Regions from separate parts of the Homo sapiens genome. Here region 2 is linked to region 1. A link means that fine-mapping ties the variant in region 1 to the plasma level of a protein whose gene starts in the linked region. Region 1 holds a variant in brackets. A gene starts in the other region. All regions are shown on their reverse strands. Region 1 overlaps KNG1 (kininogen 1). Region 2 holds the start of BCL2L11 (BCL2 like 11).

Evidence for each region. A credible set is the group of variants that fine-mapping cannot tell apart. PIP is the posterior inclusion probability: the model's chance that the variant is causal. Protein levels are from antibody-based Olink assays in UK Biobank. Linkage for the fine-mapping came from a reference panel and not from the study's own genotypes, which makes the PIPs less certain.
Region 2: BCL2L11 starts here. The variant in region 1 is the best candidate, but not a certain one, in a credible set for the plasma level of the BCL2L11 protein (UK Biobank, PIP 0.73).

Annotation. Positions count from the first base shown.
Region 1 is chr3:186,738,172-186,748,694 of GRCh38, reverse strand. KNG1 (kininogen 1) reads right to left here. Exons shown (of 10, transcript NM_001102416.3): 8 at 9,489-9,596; 9 at 9,281-9,367; 10 at 4,285-7,173. The coding sequence ends at 6,364. Among named protein-coding and RNA genes, the nearest start is that of KNG1, 26 kb to the right of the region's middle. The variant G/A (reference allele first, on the strand shown) is at 4,960.
Region 2 is chr2:111,114,513-111,125,035 of GRCh38, reverse strand. It overlaps BCL2L11 (BCL2 like 11), which reads right to left and starts at 4,122. Exons shown (of 4, transcript NM_138621.5): 1 at 3,848-4,122; 2 at 897-1,303. The coding sequence starts at 1,290. It overlaps ACOXL (acyl-CoA oxidase like), which reads right to left. Exons shown (of 18, transcript NM_001142807.4): 18 at 6,488-7,420. The coding sequence ends at 7,220. It overlaps ACOXL-AS1 (ACOXL antisense RNA 1), which reads left to right and starts at 9,448. Exons shown (of 4, transcript NR_122074.1): 1 at 9,448-9,516. RefSeq lists silencers at 2,038-2,597, 3,390-3,684, 4,018-4,557 and enhancers at 3,568-3,687, 4,838-4,917.

The DNA.
Region 1 (10,523 bases):
CGCATTGCCGGGCCTGGCTGTGCATTTGAAAGCAATAGAATGTGTTCTCCTAATATACCTCTGAAACTGGTCCAATTGTCCCATAGAACTGATATTTATGGCTTCTTTTGAATAAACATAGAAACTGATCCTCCCAGTCTTGAAACTTGAGGAAGTTACATTTGTCTTTGCTCAGTTTCTTTCTCAGGCATCCAACCATCAGGCTTCCTAGATAGTGTCAATAAACTGAAACTTACCAGATCACTGCATCTAGGCAATAAGACATCAGACTCCTCACCTACCATGGTTGCCTAAGTGGCTACCTGCTTCCTGTTGAACAGCTCCTCTTCCTTACCCCTCCCTAATTCCTGTTTTCCTGTATGTAGTTACATTTCTTCCCTGCTATATAATCCCCTAATTTTAGCCAGTCAGGGAGATGGATTTGAGACTGATCTCCCATCTCCTTGGCTGCAGCACCCAATTAAAGCCTTCTTAACTGGCAACACTCGTGTCAGTGATTGGCTTTCTGTGTGGCAAGCAGCAGAGCCTAGACCTAACCCTTGGTGTTTTGGTAACAAATTGATAGGGTGAAAAAAAAGGCTGGTGCATCAGTCAAGGTTTCATCAAGGAAGCAGAACCACTGTGAATCCTATGGCATAGGAGATTTATCTAAATCTAATGCCATTGTGGGAGGAGCTAGGAAAATAAGGTCCAGGGAAAGGGAGTTGGAGGATCTGAAGAAGGTTATTCATTAGCCTTCCAAAAGCATTGGTGCTCCTGGACAAGTCAGAGCTTTTAGGGAAAACTGGACAGGTACATATAGCTGCCAAGGGACTGCACAGGGGAGTTAGTGGAGAAATCTTTGGAAGACTCTTGCCCTGTTAGGTGTACTATGGCTATAGGTTAGCACGGCCAGCAGTGGAGGAAATGTTGAGTGCCAAGGAGGGGCGAGGGAGAACAGGCTGGAACCCTTCGGCATCCCTGCATCCATCTCTCACTGCAGCTTTTCTTTTTCTTTTTCTTTTTCTTTTTTTTTTTTTTTTGAGATGGAGTCTTGCTCTGTCATCCAGGCTGGAGTGCACTGGCACGACCTTGGCTCACTGCAACCTCCGCCTCCCGGGTTCAAGCGATTCTCTTGCCTCAGCCTCCCAAGTAGCTGGGATTACAGGTGCCTGTCACCATGCCTGGCTAATTTTTGTGCTTTTTAGCAGAGACGGGGTTTTGCCATGTTGGCTAGGCTGGTCTCGAACTCCTGACCTCAAGTGATCCAGCCGCCTCAGCCTCCCAAAGTGCTGGGATTACAGGCATGAGCCACCATGCCCGGCCCTATTCTTACTTTGTATGTTGTATGTACTTTGTATGAATTGCTCCACCTCCCAGCTTGAAGCAATTCTCCTGACTCAGCCTCCCGAGTAGCTGGGATTACAGGCATCCGCCACCACACACCCAGCTACTTTTTGTATTTTTTGGTAAAGTCGGGATTTTGCCATGTTGGCCAGGCTGGTTTCGAACACCTGACCTCAGATGATCCGCCTGCCTCGGCCTGCCAAAATGCTGGGATTACAGGCGTGAGCCACCGTGCCTGGCCAAGAATTTATCTCTTTTAATTCTCATAACACCCCATGAGGTAAGTACATTATTAAAGTAATATTTTGCATGGGGAAACTGGGACTTTGAGAATTTAAACTGGGAAGTTAAGCAAATTGGCAGTTTTTAGACTCAGGCTGTAACTACAGAACTCTGGTTTTTAACCACCTCACTATACTGCCTCAAATGTGATACACTGGGCAATACCTCAAAGTTTTGCAAAAGACAGAATGGTGTTCAAATGGAAATTCTTATGAAATAAAAGATGAAAGTATAACTTAAATAATTTTTTGTTGTTGTTTTTTGAGATGGAGTATCACTCTTGTTGTCCAGGCTGGAGCGCAATGGTGCGATCTTGGCTCACCGCAATCTCTGCCTCCCGGGTTCAAGCAATTCTCCTGCCTCAGCCTCCGAGTAGCTGGGATTACAGGCATGTGCCACCACACTCGGATAATTTTATATTTTTAGCAGAGACGAGGTTTCTCCATGTTAGTCAGGCTGGTCTCGAACTCCCAAGCTCAGGAGATCCACCCGCCTCAGCCTCCCAAAGTGCTGGGATTACAGGTGTGAGCCACTACACCCAGCCAACCTTAAATAATTTAACATAGCATTTTTGCAAGATGTTGAAGTGGCATTTTGGCTTTTGATCATCTATCTTAATATAGAGAGAGAGACACTGGGCTTCTGGAAGAGTGAGTTTTAAAATATAGCTGCTGGATCCTCTCAAATCTTCTCAGAGGAGCCTTGGGAGTCTGGGCTTTCCCGCGAGGTGAATGTACAGAGTATGAGCAGAAGGGGAGCATGGGCGCCAGACAGACTGGGGTGAGGCCGAAAAGCATGTGTCTTTCTGTGAGTTAACTCCTTTGGAACCAGGCTTAGAAGCAGGAAGTGGAGAGTGGAGTAAAAAGCCAATAGGGGCCTCCTGTTTGAGGAACTAGGCGTAGACAATGTGAGGAATGTGCGTTGGACTCGACGACAGGAAATGCCTGCCCTGAAGAGAAGCACGGAGCGATGTAGCTGTGTGGCCCCAGAGCCAGGGCCAGACACTTGGGGTGTGACTTTGGCTTGGTAGTTAGGTCTTTTTTTTTTTTTTTTTTTTTTTTATTTGAGGCAGAGTCTTACTCTGTTGCCCAGGCTGGAGTGCAGTGGCATGATCTCGGCTCCCTGCAATCTCCACCTCCCGGGTTCAAGCGATTCTCGTGTCTCAGCCTCCCCAGTAGCTGGGATTACAGGCTCCCACCGCCACACCAAGCTAATTTTTTTTTTAATTATTTTTTAGTAGAGACGGGGTTTCGCCATGTTGGCCAGGCTGGTCTCGCACTCCTGACCTCAAGTGATCCGCCTGCCTTGGCCTCCCAAAGTGCTGGGATTACAGACGTGAAGCCACTGCGCCCGGCTGGTATAGATATTTAAAAAATAAGAAAGTTAGTTTCTGGGTCACGGGAAACTCATGTTTATGTTACCTAACAAAGGCCTGAAGTGGAAATACTTCATGTTGTTGAGTAAGCTGAGAGGTATAGGCTTTATATATCAGCCCTTATTTTTCTGCTAAAACATGATTGTCAGGAAATACCCAGAACAGAACCCTGACTCCATTCTCTTCCCATTCTGATCCACCCTACCCAGAACCTTCAGAATCATCTATCTCAAACTCCCTCTGAGTATGGCAAAGACTGTAGAAGGAACTCTACTGCATATTTCAGCCTAGACTCCCAGCTGGGCTTCATACTACCTTTCACAGCTGATCCCTCTACCTAGTCAACTTCTTCCAGTCACATTGGTTGCATTCACTCACTGTTGCACAAAAGACTGCAGCCTGGATCAAATCTTTGTTCCGTATGCTTTCATCTTGACTTGCCAATGGGATTGCAAGATCTTTGAGGGAAAGGATTTATGTCTTTTAAAATTTCTTTCTTTTCCTCTCAGGACCTCATGCGAAGCATATGGTAAATAGTTAGTGACTGCTGCTTAACTCAGTTTATCCTGACCAATACACAGAACAGCACCAGCCACAATTAGGTATTTAATAAGGATATTTTGGATTGAGACAAGGATCCTCTCAGAGTCAGACATTGTCTTGGCATGCCTTTTTTTTTTTTTAATTTATTGGGTCTCTGTGACTGTAGTCAGTGACTTGGTGTGTCTTTTGTAATGACAACATTAATAATAAAGCCTTCAGATGACATGGTGTAATGGAGTTCAAAAGGTCTAAGTCTGAATGCCAGCCCTGCCACTTATTAACTATATGACCCTGGGCAGGGCACTGTGAACTACAGTTTCCTTGTAAAAGAATGATGTTCATGGGGGCCTTAGAGTGGTTGTGAGGATTAAGTTATATGCCAAAAGTAAATTATCTAGCATAGCAAATGGCTGTAATAGGTGTTCGATAAATGTTTTTTTTCTTTTGAGACTGAATTTCATTTTGTCACCCAGCCTGGAATGCAGTGGTGCAATCTCAGCTCACTGCAACCTCCACCTCTCAGGCTCAAGTGATTCTCCTGCCTCAGCCTCTGGAGTAGCTGGGATTACAGGTGCGTGCCACCACGCCCGGCTAATTTTGTATTTTTATTAGACATGGAGTTTCGCCATGTGGCCAGGCTGGTCTCGAACTCCTGACGCCAGGTCATCCACCCACCTCGGCCTCCCAAAGTGCTGGGATTACAGGCGTGAGCCACCATGCCCAACCCAATAAGTGTTTTTATTACAGAAAATTTAAAATCTCCGTCACTTTTTACTTTATTGATTTTCAATTTGCTTCTTTACCTGGATCAGAAAGATAATTTCAAATTGTTTGGAGGTTGAGTATTTTCTGATAGTGAGAAGTTGGTAGACATTCTATTAACAGAGATGATTTTAAAAATATTTTTGGTAATTAACTGGACCATAAGAAAACAATACTAAACAAGCCAAATTACTCTTAGCTAAGGCTTGGAAATCTGGAGAAAGAGGAAGAAGAGAAGGAGAGAGTCCTTAGATTACTGGTAGAAGCATGACCTACTAACTCTTCTTTTAGCACCCGTGGTGGTAAGGAAGTCCCGCCTAAGGACTTCTGCCTTGGCTAGGGAATGTTCCAGTGTTGGGTTATGAGCCTCCATGGCAGAGCCACAGCACTGACTCTCTGACCAGCTGGAATTTGCTGCAGAATGGGTAGGGCTGAAAGGAGACCACTGTGAATTAGAGTTAGAACATCAAGACTGATCTTTATTTCACCCAGAGGCAGAGTGATAAAATGGCATTCTTCTCTATTTAAATTCTATCCCATCTTTCTTCTTGTCCTTCCTCTCAAGGTTGCTGGCAGAGGTGGTTGGGGCTATGTGCCTGGAGTGAAGATTCTGCCCATTGGTCAAGAGACCTCCCTCTCAGATGCTGGCTCTGCCCCTGCCTTTGGGGGTC[G/A]ACCCTTGTACTCGCAGGACCTTAGGTGACTCTGTAAGTATAGTAAAACGCAGTTAATATGATGTTATCATTCAATCATTTTTAAAAAGTGGAGCAACCAGTTGACAAGGTAAGACTTTTTCCTGACATCTGTGGTTGTTTATTTAAAAGAACAGACAATATTTAAAATGAAAGACAAACTCAGAGGTTCAAATGCATCCAATAACTTGAAGCAGCAGTGACATATACATCCAAAGATGATTGTAGCTATTTAAAGCCATATCTTGTTTTTCTAGGCAAAAGTACAACATTGGTTATAAAGCATATACCTTCTTTGCACTATAGGGCAATGAAAGGCAATCCTATTATTCTGCTTCTCAAAAATCAATGGTCTTCAAAGTCATAGCAAAAAGACTATAAAGTGAGACTAGAGAGTAATTTCCTCATAAAATTTCGGAACAAACTTTGCATCACATTCCATAATATTCCCTTGTCAATTATTTAAAAAGTTTTATTAGCAAGCCTGCTTCTATATTGCTCCCTCTGCTTTTCATCCTTATCATTAAGCTCGGAGCTTCTGTAAACTAAGAATTACTCAATCTAGGCTCAGCAAAAATAAACAGAATACTTCTATATGAAAGCCTGTTGCAAAGAGTAGTTAATGAGTAAACAGAAATTTTTGACTTATGAGAAACACTCTCACTCAGAAAGGGCAGTGGGAGTATTTATTTGATATAACTAGCCCATTTTGGGAATAGAAAGTCAATTAATTTATGTCCCCCCTTTCCTCCCTTTGGCCAACCTGTCTTCTTTCTTGTTACTTTGAAATCTGGAAGTTTTTCTTATTATTTCTTTTTTTTTCTTTTTTTCTGAGACAGAATCTTGCTCTGATGCCCAGGCTGGAGCGCAGTGGCACGATCTCGGCTCACTGCAACCTCCGCCTCCCGGGTTCAAGCAATTCTCCAGCCTCAGCCTCCTTATTATTTCTATTCCATTAATAAGTTCAGCATTTAATCTCTTGACTTCCCTTATTTTCACACACATTCAAATACCAAGTGCCACAGTTTATTAAGAATGACAAGAATCTTTGTATGCAAATTCATGACATATGTTGTAAGGTACATATTTGTTATCAGAGAAGCCAATTGCAGCAGGCCATACGGCACATTAGTTTGTCTGTTTACTGTGCTAGTTTAGAAAACTTGGGAAGAAGATTCAGAAAAGAGTTAGAATTGTGGCACACAATTTTATGCAGTCCGTGGAGACTGATGGTGTCTCCACTGGGAGTCTCACCACTTCTCTTTAGACTGTTCCGAAGCTGCATGGTTTTTGGTGCATTATATCAGGATATTTTCATCTGGACAATGGAGAGAGGGATATTGATACTTTAATAAAGTATGAAAGAAATACCCATAGCCACTTAAATTAAGAAAGGCCATCAGTGAGATCGAAATAATAAGATTCTTTCATTTGTGTGGTTGGATTAATTTCACTAACTGACTTCCAGGGGCGTCCAGGACATTTTGGGGAGGTCGTGTCTGGAAAATCTGATATTGGGTTAAATGAAAGGCCATTTGGGTCTATCTGGATATCAGGGATCCAATCGTCATCACTCTGTATGGGAGCTGGTGATATAGGAGGCATCATAGTTGCAATGAGATCAGAGTCCTGAAAGTCAGAAAAGGTAACTGTTACACCTGGCTTGGCTAGGGAAGGGATGGGTGTTGGCCCTTCTGTCTTCTCTTGTGTCTGTGCAGAAGGTGTAGTACTGTCTTCAGAAGAGCTTGCCAAATGCTCTGTTTTCCAACCATTGTGCTTTCCATTCTTTTTGCCTTTATTTTTATGTTTTCCGTGGCCATGACCATGCTTATGCTTATGTCCATGGTCAAGGACATGGCCCCCTTGGTGTTCAAGATCATCATCAAGTTTGAACTTATGTCCATGACCAAGACCATGCTGTTGTTCGTGTCCATGGCCAAGGCCATGTCCTCTTTGGTGCCCATGCCCTTGGTCACGTTCATGTTTATGGCCATGGCCAAGATTATGTTTTCTTTGTTTTTCATGGCCCCAGTCATGTCTACGAGTATGCCCTTGTTCTTTTCCTGAATCCCGCTCTTCATCTTGTGCAGGTGCCATGGAAGTGTGGGGTGGACTTACAGTTGTTTCTTCTTTTATTTCCCCTATTCGTGATGATCGGAAAGGTGAAAAACCTGGAGGCCTTTTCATCAGTGAGATCTAAACAGAAAATATTAAGATGAATGTATTACTGCAAAAATCATGCTATTGATGATAGAAAAAAACACTGAGATCTGGCAATGTTATCTTAGTTTACAATGGGGGAGGTGTTTGCCAGATTTTAAATGCTATATTAACATTCCAGAAAGGATGAATAATTTTTTTTGTCTTTTGATTGATCTTAAAATTTGTGGACATTAATTATTGTTGTTAATAATACCATAAAATAGCCAGGCATGGTGGCTCACACCTGTAATCTCAGCACTTTGGGAGACCAAGGCGAGCAGATCACTTGAGGTCAGGAGTTTGAGACCAGCCTGGCCAACATGCTGAAACCCCATCTCTACTAAAAATACAAAAATTAGCTGGGCATGGTGGCACATGCCTGTAATCCCAGCTACTCAGGAGGCTGAGGCAGGAGAATTGCTTGAACCCAGGACGTGGAGGTTGCAGTGAGCTGAGATGGCGCCACTGCACTCCAGCCTAGGCGACAGTGACTCTGTCAAAAAAAACAAAAAACAAACAACAACAACAACAAAAAAAAAACAAAAAAACCCAGCCAAACAACAACAAAAAAAACTGTAAAATAAGCTGGAGTGTTTTTGCTTCATCTGGATGGTTGAACTAGCTAATCTCTAGGGTAGCTTCTGAGCCTATGTTTTTACTGAGCACAGTATTTAATTATTGATACTACTGTTATTACCACCATCACTGCTTTTATCCTAAAAGGCCCTAAGTGGCTTTATGAACTGAATATATAGGGAGCATGTATCCATGATCACTTTGTTGTGCTGAAGCACATTAGGACATATTCGCAAGCTTGAAATGCAACCTGAGGACAATGTTTGTGTTACACCATCTACATACCTACACATGACAAAAGACCAAATCAGAAAAGAGGGAAAAGAGGTAACCTGCTTCAAATATGTCGATCTGTGGATTAATTCTACCTACACTTTTGCTACCTGTGAGAATGTGTTAATTGGAAGCAGTGTCTGGTGATGCAAAGAACATGGTCATTGGAGTCCGGCCAGACCCTACTGGTAATCAGCATCGTGATGGAAAGGGTAGACTCTGAATTGACCAAGATTTGAATCCAAGTGCCATCAGCTTCACTTTTCCTTTCTGTAAAATAGAAATAATAACAGCACCTGCCTCACAGAGTTATAAGGAGGACTCGAAAATGTGGGTGAAACCTTCAGTATAGTGCCTGGGACAGAGGAAGCATTTGATAATGTCATTATTCACTCAGGACCTCAGAGTCTTTCTAATTTTTAGTGTCTCATCCTTGACAATAGGGAAAGTGTTACTACCTCCCAGAGTTCTTTTAAGACTTAAAAAAGAAAGATGACATCAACGAATGCTTTTCAAACTTGATTCATGCATATGAATCCCCTGGGGATCTGGTTAAAATTCGGTAGCTGTGAAGTGGGGTTTGCGAGTCTGAATTTTTCTTTTCTTTTTTTTTTTTTGAGACAAAGTTTCGCTCTTTGTTGCCCAGGCTGGAGTGCAGTGGCAGGATCTCGGCTCACTGCAACCTCCACCTCCTGGGTTCAAGGGATTCTCCTGCCTCAGCCCCCTGAGTAGCTGGGATTACAGGCGCCACCACACCCAGCTAATTGTTGTATTTTCAGTAGAGACAGGGTTTCACCATGTTGGCCAGGCTAGTCTCAAACTCCTGACCTCAGGTGATCTGCCTGCTTCAGCCTCCCAAAGTGCTGGGATAACAGGCGTGAGCCACCGCGCCCAGCCATGCATTTTTCACATGGTCCTTGCATGTCAGCAGAATGCAGTGGAGTGCTGTATCTGGCCTCAGGTACACCTGGCATAGCCAATGTTGCTCCCCCACAGCAGGACTGCAGTGCACTAGGAGAGAGTCTATAGAAGCTTCACTGAGACACTGACAATGTGTGAGAAGTGATCAGGAGGATTGTTACTCTTCTTTCTAGCCATTAAACAGAGATCAGCACAGAAGTGTGAGAGTTACTCCCCATTTAAAAAAGATAGCTCCCCAATTCATTTCAGTAATGGTTCATTTTCAGCCCCCAAATATGGATTTTCAGAATGAGCAGAACTGACCCCACGCTGACTGTAATTAGAATCATACCATTCCCAGTGGTTGACAGTTGACAGTAGGGTAAATTTTTTTCTCCCAGGGTACCACATAAACTTCAGCGTTGCAATCTAGGCTTTGCTATCCATGAAAACAGAAGTCGAAAGAGAGACAGTGTTATTCACGAGACATTTAAACAAATGATTCTAAAAACATCAAATAGGCTTCCAGTGAAAAAGTAGACAGGTGCATGACTACTCACGCCAAGTTTTTTGGTCTCACAGCTTTCGGTCAACTCTTCATTACTTTCCTTGGAACATGTGGTTTCCCTGGCCACGAAGTCAATAAAATATTTCTTGCCAGCCACCACCTGAAAAATTAATTAGTACAAAGTAAACGCTTAAAAATATTTGCATAATAAATCATTTATCTTTAAGAAATGTTAAGGGAGAATCTTGAAATTTTAATTGACCAACTTAGAGAGTTACATACAAAAAAGTACACGTTTGGCATTAAAGCTTGGCATGCATATTTAAAATATTTGGCTATCGGTTGGTCCCATTTCCTTTTCTAAGTGGGGGAAGAAATAAGCAAGCTATAATTTTCTTTATTTTTTTTTTTTGAGATGGAGTTTCGCTCTTGTTGCCCAGGCTGGAGTGCAGTGGCACGATCTCGGCTCACCACAACCTCCGCCTCCTGGATTCAAGCAATTCTCCTGCCTCAGCCTCCTGAGTAGCTGGGATTACAGTTGCCCACCTCCACGCCTGGCTAATTTTATATTTTTAGTAGAGATGGGGTTTCTCCATGTTGGTCAGGCTGGTCTCGAACTCCCGACCTCAGGTGATCCACCTGCCTCGGCCTCCCAAAGTGCTGGGATTACAGGCATGAGCCACCATGCCTGGCCTATAATTTTTATTTATTTATGTATTTATTTGAGTTTTATTGTCCAACAGCTGTTAAATTCACTAGTAATTCAAGGGCTCAAGTTGTAATATCTAATAATCTAACAGGAATAGGAAGAAAAACTTAAAATGTTTTTAAATATGCCTTATTGTCCTGCCAAATCTTGAATTGGTGAAATACTGAGTTAGTACTACTATAGAAATTATGTGGATTAAATTTTGTAATTAGAAAAATTATTTGGGGTTTTTATTGTTCTCTTACTATTTTTAATATTAAGAAATTATTTTAGGCTGGGCGTGGTGGTTCATGCCTGCAATTCCAGCACTTTGGGAGGCTGAGGCGGGTGGATCACTTAAGGCCAGCTGTTCAAGACCAATCTGACCAACGTGGTGAA
Region 2 (10,523 bases), not on the chromosome of region 1:
TTCCATGATTTTGCTGTGGGCCTCTGTGGTATTTATGTTAGCCACTCTTGGTTCAAACCCTACTACTGCCTTTAATCCCTGAAATAAAAACCTACAACCTAATCTGATTAGTACTATGTCCAAACCCTCTGAGCAATAAGCACAAAGAGGAATTTAGGCAGAAAACAAACCATTTTCATGGTTCTATGTTGGTACTGCTTTCATGAACTAGTTCATTTTTTTAAAAGTGTTATTTTCAAAAATGATTGTCATCTTTCTTTACACTTTTGATTATTAAGCTATTTTCTGTAAATGATCAGTTCCCTTTCAAGCAAAATGTCATTACTATGTAAAGCCTGGTGGTTAAAACACACTTTAGCTTAATGAAGACAGACCTGAAAGCTAATGTTTGGACCTCAACTCATCACTGCCACAAAAGTTAGTAACTTTGTAAAAATGTTGATGTGGGCCATGCGCGGTGGCTCACGCCTGTAATCCCAGCACTTTGGGAGGCTGAGACAGGCAGATTACAAGGTCAGGAGATTGAGACCATCCTGGCTAACACGGTGAAACCCCATCTCTACCAAAAATAGAAAAAATTAGCTGGGCGTGGTGGCACGCGCCTGTAGTCCCAGCTACTCTGGAGGCTGAGGTAGGAGAATTGCTTGAACCCGGGAGGTGGAGCTTGCGGTGAGCTGAGATTGCACCACTGCACTCCAGCCTGGGCGACAGAGCAAGACTCATCTCAAAAAAAAAAAAAAAAGTTGGTTTGATAGTTTGACACATCCTCCATTCCCATCTAAAGATGGAATAAATCAGTTACGGGGTTTTAAAAGGGGATTTTAAATGCCACACACAGCCTTCAAGCAGATTCAACCATCCACACGTCAACTGCCTCTTACCCAGGCATTGCTTACCCATTGCACTGAGATAGTGGTTGAAGGCCTGGCAAGGAGGACTTGGGGTTTGTGTTGATTTGTCACAACTCATGGGTGCTGGGCTCCTGTCTGTGTCAAAAGAGAAATACCCACTGGAGGATCGAGACAGCAGGGAGGATCTTCTCATAAAGATGAAAAGCGGGGATCTGGTAGCAAAAGGGCCAGGGCTGGCAGGTGGGGCCAGCGGGCCCTGAGGGCTGCCGTGGGGGCAGCTGTCCCCTTCACCTCCGTGATTGCCTTCAGGATTACCTTGTGGCTCTGTCTGTAGGGAGGTAGGGGCCCCAGGTCTGAGCTGGGGAGGCCTCTCCGCAGGCTGCAATTGTCTACCTTCTCGGTCACACTCAGAACTTACATCAGAAGGTTGCTTTGCCATTTGGTCTTTTTTTCTGCAAGTAAAATAAAAACTAAGATTATTTTAAGCAAAAAAAAAAATCGATGAATAAACAAATTAGCTCTCACCTAGCGATTAAAAATTCTTAGGGTTAATCCCAAATACTTTGTTCTATACTTTTCTGACAATCTCCCAAATAAAAAAATTGCACCTAAAATAATAAAGGTGTAATTTTTTTTTGGTAGAGGGTACCCCCAAACAAAATACAGTAACAATGTCAACAGCTTGCGGAACTGGTGCACACACACATGCGTTTCCAGAGAAGCAGCTAATCTGAAGTCTATTCGTGTGTGCTCTTTGCCCAGGACAGACTTCTTCGAGTAAGTCAGAAACTCCCAGCGGCTCTGACTTCCCGGGGTTAGGTAGGACGCCGGAGCACAGGAGCGGGCGCAGATGCAGCGATTGCAGGCGGCTGGCCGCGTTCCCTGCTCCGGCCCCATTGTTTGCCGAAAATGCTGAGGGCAGCAAGTCTGGGGAAGGTCTGGCAGCGGCCGTCAGTCGTAGTAAGTGCGTCACAATAGAGTTTGTAACTCCAGCGCGGCTCGGCCCGGCTCTGGCGCTCTCTCCGCCCGTGCTCCCTCCCTCCCGCTCCCGTACCGCACGCCGCACCGAATCAGACAGAACTTCTCTGAGGTGCACACCGTGAGGTGCACATCTCTAAATGGGGAGGGGGCGGCGGAGGGCGACGAAGCGAACGCCTGCAAGGTCTACAACTAGGTCCGCAGGCTAGGCGACACCGGTGCGCGCCGCGCCGCCTTCATCCCACAGACCCTCCCCTCAGAAGGCAATCACACCGAAACTCACGTCCGCGCCTTCCCTTCAGAGCGCAGCGTCCGGGCCAGGGACCAAGCCCCGCGGCGTCCGGCCCGCGCCCTTCGCCGACCGGGCGCCCCCTGACCGTCACCACGAAAGCAGCGCAGGAGACAAAGCCCGGGACTCGGGTTCAGAGTCCCCGGCGCAGCGCAAAGCCCGCGCCTTCCCGCCAGCCCGCCGCCGCGCTCCGCCGGGCAGCCGAGGGCTCCGCACGCCGCGCCTCTGGCCCGCGCTGCCCCGGCCGCAGCCGCCGGGAACATCCTCCGCCTCCTCCCGCTCCTCCCCTCGCGCTCTGCGCCCGCCGCCGCCGGCACCGCCGACCTCCCCGCGCCGCTGGCGCCGGGTGCCCGCGTTCCCAATTGGTCCGCGCGCGGTCGCTCCGCGCCGCAGCCAATCGGCAGCCGCGGTGGGGGCGGCGCCTACGGGTCAGGCCGCCAAAGGCGAGGCGATTGTTGACAAACTCGCCTCCGAGCGCTGCTCTGGCCGTGGTCGTGGCGGCTGCCGCTTCGTCGGAGGATTTGAGGGCCGGCTGGCCCGGCCACCCTGCCCATCCCTGTGCTCCTTCCGGACACAAGCCTTAGCAGCTCCCGCCGTCCTGGACAGCCAGTCACCTGGAGACAAAGCAGGACTTGCGCCGCGCCCGGACCCGCAGGGCCATCCCCAGGCCCAGTCCTCGCCACTTGTCCTTGTTTTGGCCCGTCGGGGGCAGACCCTAACGGCCGTCACCGCCCTGGCTGTGGCAACTATTCTCCTCCAACAACTTCCTCTCTCTCCTGGTGCGCCGCAGACACGAGTCAAAGCCGAAGAGCCACCCCTGGCCGCGGACGCGCACGTCCGCGACCATCGAGTAAATTCACACCCTCCGCCCTGGCGTCCGTCGGGCCCTCCACCAGCAGCGCCAACCCTGGGGCAACAGGTCCCAGAGGGCACGGCGCCGCCAGCCTGCACCGCGAACCGGGTCGGGTGTGCTCGGGCATGCGTGAGCCGCTAAGATAGCCCGGCCCAGGGACCGAGCAGGTTCTGCCGGCCGCGACTAGTCCCCTGCGCGGTCCAGGTGGTCAGGGGAGGACCTAGATTTCTCGCTGCCAGGGAATCGTGCGGATGGCACAGGCCGCAGGACTCCTGCAGAGCAAGCAGGGGCCCCAGGTACGCTTGAGAAAGCGAACGCAGCAGTGGCCCCGAAACCTTGGCCTGAATGAGTAAAAGGAAAAGCCGTGTCTCGTCAGTTAAATCACCACCGCAGTTCCGCAAATCCTCCGCAACAGGCCCACGCGCCCCAAAAAACCAAGACACGAAACACCCTCACACTGCGCGGCCGCTACTCTGAGGGCGCCGGAGCCGGCGGCGAGACTTTCCAGCTGGGCGCACAGCCCGATACTACGAGCAGGTCCTCAGCTCCCGGGCCGGCGCCGAAAGGCACGCGCTGCCTCTCCTCCTGCCCGGACCTACGACCCTTCACCAGGCCCGCGCGCAGCATCCCGTCCCAAGCCGCACTTCGGCCAAGAGCCTGCAGGTTCCGCGTGAACGACTTTTCTTTAAAGAGAACCTGCCCGAGAGGGAACCCGATCCACACGGATCCCCACCTCCCGCCGGCGACAAGCGGCGCCGATGCAAGCGTCTCCGCTCGCACGTGCACGGGAAGCGGGCAGTAGGTGGTGCCGTTCGGGCTCCAGCGCTAGTCTTCCTTCGGTGCCAGGCCCGCGCCCCGGGATTTGGAGGTATTTACCTTGCGTTTCTCAGTCCGAGAGTCAGAGTCAGACATTTGGGGGAACAAGGGCCAAGAAAGGGCGCCGAGGCGGTGGCGGCGGGAACGCAGCGAACCGAATACCGCGATGATGCGATCGCAGTGTGGCAGGGTTCGCAGGGTGGCTGCAAGAATCAAGTGGTGGTAGTGGCGGCGGCGGCGGCGGCGGCGGCGGCGGCGGCGGCGGCGGCAGCGGCAGCGGCGCTGGACGCAGAGCTCCAACAAACTGCAGACCAGGCGGCTGCGCGGAGCGAAGTGAAACCTGCGCGGCCCTGCAGCCCAGCTCTGGCTGGCGGCCCCGCTCCTACGCCCAATCACTGCGGACCCCGCCCCCGCTAGGTCCCGCCCCGGCGCGCGGGCTGGCAAGCTCCGCCCCCCTCGGCGCCGCGGCCGCCGGCGCGTGCAGGCTCGGACAGGTAAAGGCGGGGGTTGCCCCGCTGGGTTGCCTCCCGCGCGCGCCGCCGTCCCTGGCGTGTTTACCGGAGTAACTCTGCCTGCTGGCGGCCATGTGCGCGCCCATCCCCCACCCCGAAGTGTACCCTAGCCTCCCGCTCACCTACCCCAACCCGGCGGCGGCCGCGGCGTGCGCGGCACAGAGGGGGCGCTCCGGTCACAGCCTCCGCTGGCCCGGCCGGCGGTGTGAAGCCTCGGGAGGCGCCCTGCGCTCTCACTGTGCCCTGAGTTTCTAAGCCGCTCTGGGGCAGGCGCGGGGACTGGGTTGGTCCTCGCGAAGGCGCGGGGCGAGGTCTTTGAGCTCTCCTCCCTCTGAGGGTCCCTGGCGCCGGGCGGGACGCGGATCAGCAGGCTGCGCATCTTCCTCGCCCGGGCCTCTCGCGGGACTCAGGCACCCTCCTCCTGCCACCCCGCAGGGGCTCTCCAGCTTTTCTTCCGCGCCCAGTCGCCCTAAGAGACAGAGGCCGTGGGGGCAGGACGCGCCCAGAAAACGGCCAGGCGCGGTCCCAGTGGGCGTCTTCGCCGCCTCCCGGGTGAGGGCGGGAGGCATGTGCAAAGCAGGTAAAATAGGGAAATGAAAAAAGCACTCAGAAAAAAAAATCCTTTTAGGAAAAAAAAAAACGAGGTGAATGGCGGCCTCCAAGTGAGAGAGAACGTTGCGCACTGCATTTGGCTAGGACCCCCAAGATTTGCTGGGCTCGCAGATAACCTCGTAGGAGCTCCCTCGACTGGCTGAGGCCAGTGAAGGCAGAACAGCTGAGTTCGGGCCGCGGTGCGGGAGCGCAAAATACCCCGTCCCTCCTCCCCTCCCGCCTCCCCACCCATCCCTTTCCTCCCTGGAGTCCGCAGCACCTCACTCTACCTCCCAGGAGACCAAACTCCATGCCGCCTCTCCAGTCCTCTGAGTCTGCACCCGGGTCTGCTCTCCCAACGCGTGGCTGGCGCCCCAACCCCGGCCCTCCTGTCTGCTCCTCCCGCGCCTCAGTTCCCCAGCCCCAGCTTCTAGACAACTGCAGCGGGGGTGTGGGAGGTGGATCGGGAAATGGAACATCCCGCAGGTGAGGTCAGGCTAGATGGATTAAGGAAACTCTGTAAAGGGACCACCCTACACACCACCGCAGCCGGCAGGGAGAAGGAAGGGGCCTTGCCGTAGAGGAGCAAGTGAGGAGGCGTTGTCCCGCCGTCCGGCCGCCTGGAGCAGTTTTTAAATTCATAAGCGCTTCTGTAACGTCAGTGGGACACAGCGCAGCCCCATGCCAAAGTCTCAGCGCATTTTCGGGTGAATTTTGAGCGAGGTGAAGGAGGCCTTGGGTTCCCGGAGTCGCTGGAGGACGCGCGTCGGGCCCCGCCCAGTTATTTCGCTGCAAGAGGGAAAAGGCACGAGCGTGGACACGGCTAAGTAGACTCGGAGGCCGGAGATCGGTCCTAACCGGGCCTCGAAGTTCCTACCGCGGACGAACTTTGCTCTTCGCGGCCGTCCCGCGTCGCACCCGGGGAAAAGCAACACAACTTGCTGCGCGGGCTGAGAGCCCGAAGCCCGCCGCACGCCGCAATGCTCCGCGCTCCCCGCGGGGTCGGGCGACTCAGACAGGGACCGGAAAAGAACCACGCAGAAGAAAGCCCTATTTCTTGTCGTCTGTTCCTGTGCAGCCTTGCAGCCTCGCCGCCCCCGCGTCGCTCGCTCTCGCGACCCTGTGAACACTTTGAAAAACAAGAGTCGGGGGAAGCAACGGGCTAAGCGCTGCTATTTGGGGCACTAAAAGGAAGCCGGCCAGAGGTGGCGGGTTCATGCGTCCCCCGAGACCCAGGCCGCGTCGGGGGCCAAGAGCCCTTACAGCCTTCTCCCGCGCCGTCGGGAGGTCCTCCCGGAACTGGGCCGGAGCGCAGAGAACGCAGTGTGAGAAGGGCCCATGGGTTTTAGGTCACCTCCTTCGCGCTGGACGCGGGCAGAGCGGTGTCCCTTTCTGTCTCTGCCAAGAGACGTGGAGGGAGGGAGAAGGGAGGATGGCTTGTGCTGAAAGAAACAAGAATGAAGTCGGGCAGCCGGGATCTGAGAAATGGGAAATCCATGGCCCTTGTTCGGGACCACAGGCTTTGCCGACGTGGTCTCTCCTAGTTCCGAAATTGCCCAGGCCCGCCTCCCCACCCTCTGCAAGCAGCGGGAACGACTTCCACATCGCTTAATTTCTTTATTAAACTTTTCACCTATTCTCTTCTAAAGGACAGACTACAGCGTCAGATGGTAAAAATGTTTTCCGCGCCTTGTCTTGCCGTACGGAAACCGCCGGCCTGGGAGGACAAGCCGAGTTCTTGTTTTGCCGAGAGCAAAACTCTAGGCTCCCACTTCCTTCTCCCAGTCCGTGCGTTTCCTTGCAGAGCCCCAGAGCGTCTGATTCACTGAAATAGCATCACTTGCTGAACCAAACCTTTTTTCCCGCTCGCGGAAAGAGTGGAGCTTTTTTCTTTTGTCTAAGGGTGTTTGCTTTTTTTTTTTTCTTTCACTCGGCACCACAGTTTTTCTAAATCACTGGGAATGTGAGTCACCGCTAACAGCAGGAGACCTTTGGCGGCACCCGGCTGTGGGGCGCGCTCGCAGCGGGGAGCCCACCCTGATTGTCTAGGGGATCCGGCACTGAAGTTGGGAGAGGTTGCAGTCAGGCCAGGCTGGGTTTCAGGGAAAGGGCACAGGGATCCAGCGCACCAGGCGACCGTCTGGATCTCTTTCCTAGCAGCCAGCCGCGCACCTCGCCAGCCTCGGCGGGACCTCCGCTTTGCCACCAAAATCCCCGAGAGTGGCGGCCCAGCGGGTGCCAGCCCCCGGCCTCGGCCACAGCTCTGGGCGTCGGTGGAGCGAGCGTCGTGGCAGCTGCTGGCGGGCCACCACACTTCCCGCCACACCCGTTAGAGCTTGGCTCCCAGCTTGGGCCGCCGGGAGCGCGCCTCTTCCCGTGGCCGCGGCTGCAGCGGTGCAGGGTAGAAAGCCCACGCGGCCCGCGGGTTGGAGATTCCGGCGATTGGTGCGTGGAGGTAGGTGTGTGGAATGTTAAAGGTCGAGATCACCCTCCGGGCATCATCCTTCACCGAGTCGCACAAATCCAGCAACTGCAAAACACAACACAATGGGACAGGTCAGATGTTGGCACACTTACAGCCATCTAGTGACAGCAGCTTTCAGCCCACCAAGCACCCGCACACACAGCGGCCCCGGAAACTAGTTTCCCTTTGGATTCTCCTGTGGAAACTGTTGGCCATGAATAACCCTCGGAAGCCTTTTTTGTTTTAGACATTCCCAACTCTGACACCTAGCCCAGTGGAAACCCCGGCTTTTCCCGTAAGGGGGTGGGCGTGGACGTGGGGTCGGTCGGCTTTGCCCCCAAATTAGCCGGGAACTCGAGACCAAGGTCTGAGAATTTATTAAAGCTCCCTCCTTGGTCCTTCCTCCCTGGTCCTTCCCTCCGCTCCTCTCTCTTTGCCTCCCCTGTCGTCCCCTCCTCTCCACCTCTGGAGTGCCTGGGGTGCCACCCTCTGGCGCGCAGAGGGAACTGAACAGGAAGAGCCTCCGAACAGGTGAACCACTAGAGACCTGCTCCAGTCTCCCCAGACTAGCGCCTTCGGTCCTGACCTGGCTGGCAGTAGGCCATGATTCTTGAAATTCAGTACAGTGAGACGGCGGACCAATGCTAGGCATCTTCCGCCTGGCCGCTGCGGAAAATCCATCTGCTGTTAACGCCAATGCCAAGGAACGCCGCGGATGCCCTTGGTTCTGGCAGCCACTGGAAGGCAGGGATAAGACATTCCCGGCGGATAGGAGAGGGAGATGCAAGTCAGTGTTTTGGAAGCTGCACTGGTGTATTTTTATTTCATTTTCCATGGCTTAGGTGCCAATGTATTTTTTTTTTTATTTTCAGGAAAAAAAGCTACCAAACTAATAAGATTGTTTTTCTAAAACTACACAAGGGCAGAGGGACGGCTTTCTTTTCTTCTGATCTACACATTGTACTCCATTTTTCAAGTTTTCGGCCAGTGGTAAATTTGTTTCACTCCCCAAATCACAGTAAATCCCCAGGTTTTCATGGTTTATTTTTACAGGTTTAACAACATCACTTACACCAGCCCCACCTTTGCCCTCACATGGTGGTCATGTCTGAGCCGCACTGATGTTGTTAAGATCACAGTTTCCCTTGCAGCAGTCCAAAACGCCATTTCAGGTTTTCAGAGCATTTCAGGTTTTCAGTGAGGTCCCAAGGAGGAAGGTGGAGGAAATAGGGGATGGGGAATATAGAGGGTAGGGATATGGTGGGGGAAGAGCATGAATTGTAATAGTCCAACAATACATCTTCCCTGAAAATGTGCTCTATTACACCAGTAATTTCTAATGAAAAACTTCATTCTTCACACACTGTGGTTAAGCATCATCAAATCAGTACTGAAAAGACCTTTGATCGTATTTGCAAGATGCACTAAAATGAACTTTCACTGACCAAGATTTCAAAGTTTGTAATTAATACTCTTGAAAAATCCCTGACTAATCTGTCAACTCTCAACGTCTTTAACCACACAGTTCAAAACCATGAGGTGGCGTACACAGCCCCTAAACTTTCCACATATTGTCATATGATTATTCAAGATAATTTTCCCTTTGGGTTTGCATTATGAAACTCAACCAACTTTGGTAATATATTCACCGGTGGGGGAAATACAATGATTTGAATGAGTGTAAAATAGAGTATGGGTTTTATCTATCTGGTGCCAAAAACAGAACGTAGGGCCAGAGGTAGGAATTAAATGAGGCAGATTTCAATATAAAGAAAATTTTAAAAAAATAAACTTGAAAAGGAACCCAATGGCTGGTGAAAAGGAGGGTTTCTTCACTCATAAGTGTTCAGGGAGTGTGCCCTCCAATGGCACCCTAGAGAAGAAAAATGAACTGGCTGTGAAGAGGAGTTGACTGCCAAGATTCTTTCTAAATCTAAAGTTCTGGAGCAGTTTAAAATACTCCTTCTAGCCTTCTCCATTTTTCCTAGACTGCAACAGAAACCTCAGAATGATTATTGTCTCAATGGACGGATCCGGCATCATTCCTGTTAGTTATTGTTTGACTCTTAGTTATTGTTTGACTCTGATTCCAGGTACCCACCCACCTCTGTTCCTGGCTGTCAAGATGATAATAATAATTACCATCCTTTCACTCACAAATGGTATGCTGGATTCCTACCCAGTGTTAGGTACAATTCTGGACTTTAGAGGTTTAATGGTACACACTACAGGAACAGGTCTCACATCGTGAAGCTGTTGAGGCGTTTTAAAAATTTTTAAAAATATATGATCTCTTTAATACAAAATAAACTTGAGAAGATAATATAGCATTGATTATTACACAGTTACAGTATTTTTATTACCAGGGGGTATTTTTATATGGGGCTAAGCAGTGTATTATTAAAGTTTAGTTTTGTTACCAAACATGCTTCCATACTATAAGCATAAAAATTGCACATAGTGTAGGGGTCCTCTGCCCTGCCAGTTTATGACCCATTTATGCTGGACAAAGTACTTCAAGCTTACCCATATCTTTACAAAGAAAATTCACCAGCTTTTGAAAAAGACAAATGAATAGGTATACTTTAAAAATAAAAAAGTATGAACAAGTTATAGGTTCTTGCAAAAACATTTTTTAAGGTCAAACCTAAACATGGGCACTATTGCTCTACAAGCAATAAGAATGTACAGTCCACTGGAAATAGCCAGTGAGTGGAATTTGAGAATATCTGCTTTAAAGAAAGCAGAAGCACTCAGCCCTCAAGGGATGACACTGTGTTTGACTATATTAATATGTATATTTGGGAGTGAGGGAAAAATTGTAACATCAGTTTGGCTTCCCACCTCCATCTAGTTGCAGTACTCAATTTATTTTTCTGCTCTTTTTGACTCTCCCTACAGTTTCCTTATTTCAGTTGGGAGAGTAGGATGGCCAAGGATGGGCAGTGACTAAGCTTTGCAGTCCTCTGAACAAACCATATTTTCCCAGCATGGCATGGTGTTAGTCCTATAATAGATGTTCAGGGTGGGAAGTGCCCAGTACACTTGGAGGGACACCCCAGCTATTCCTAGGACTCCATGCAGAAGGTTTTCCTGCCTCTTCCCATATGTCTCACCCCTGTTCTCAGCATAAGATGACCACATGCTGTTTTTTGTGAAAAATCCCTTA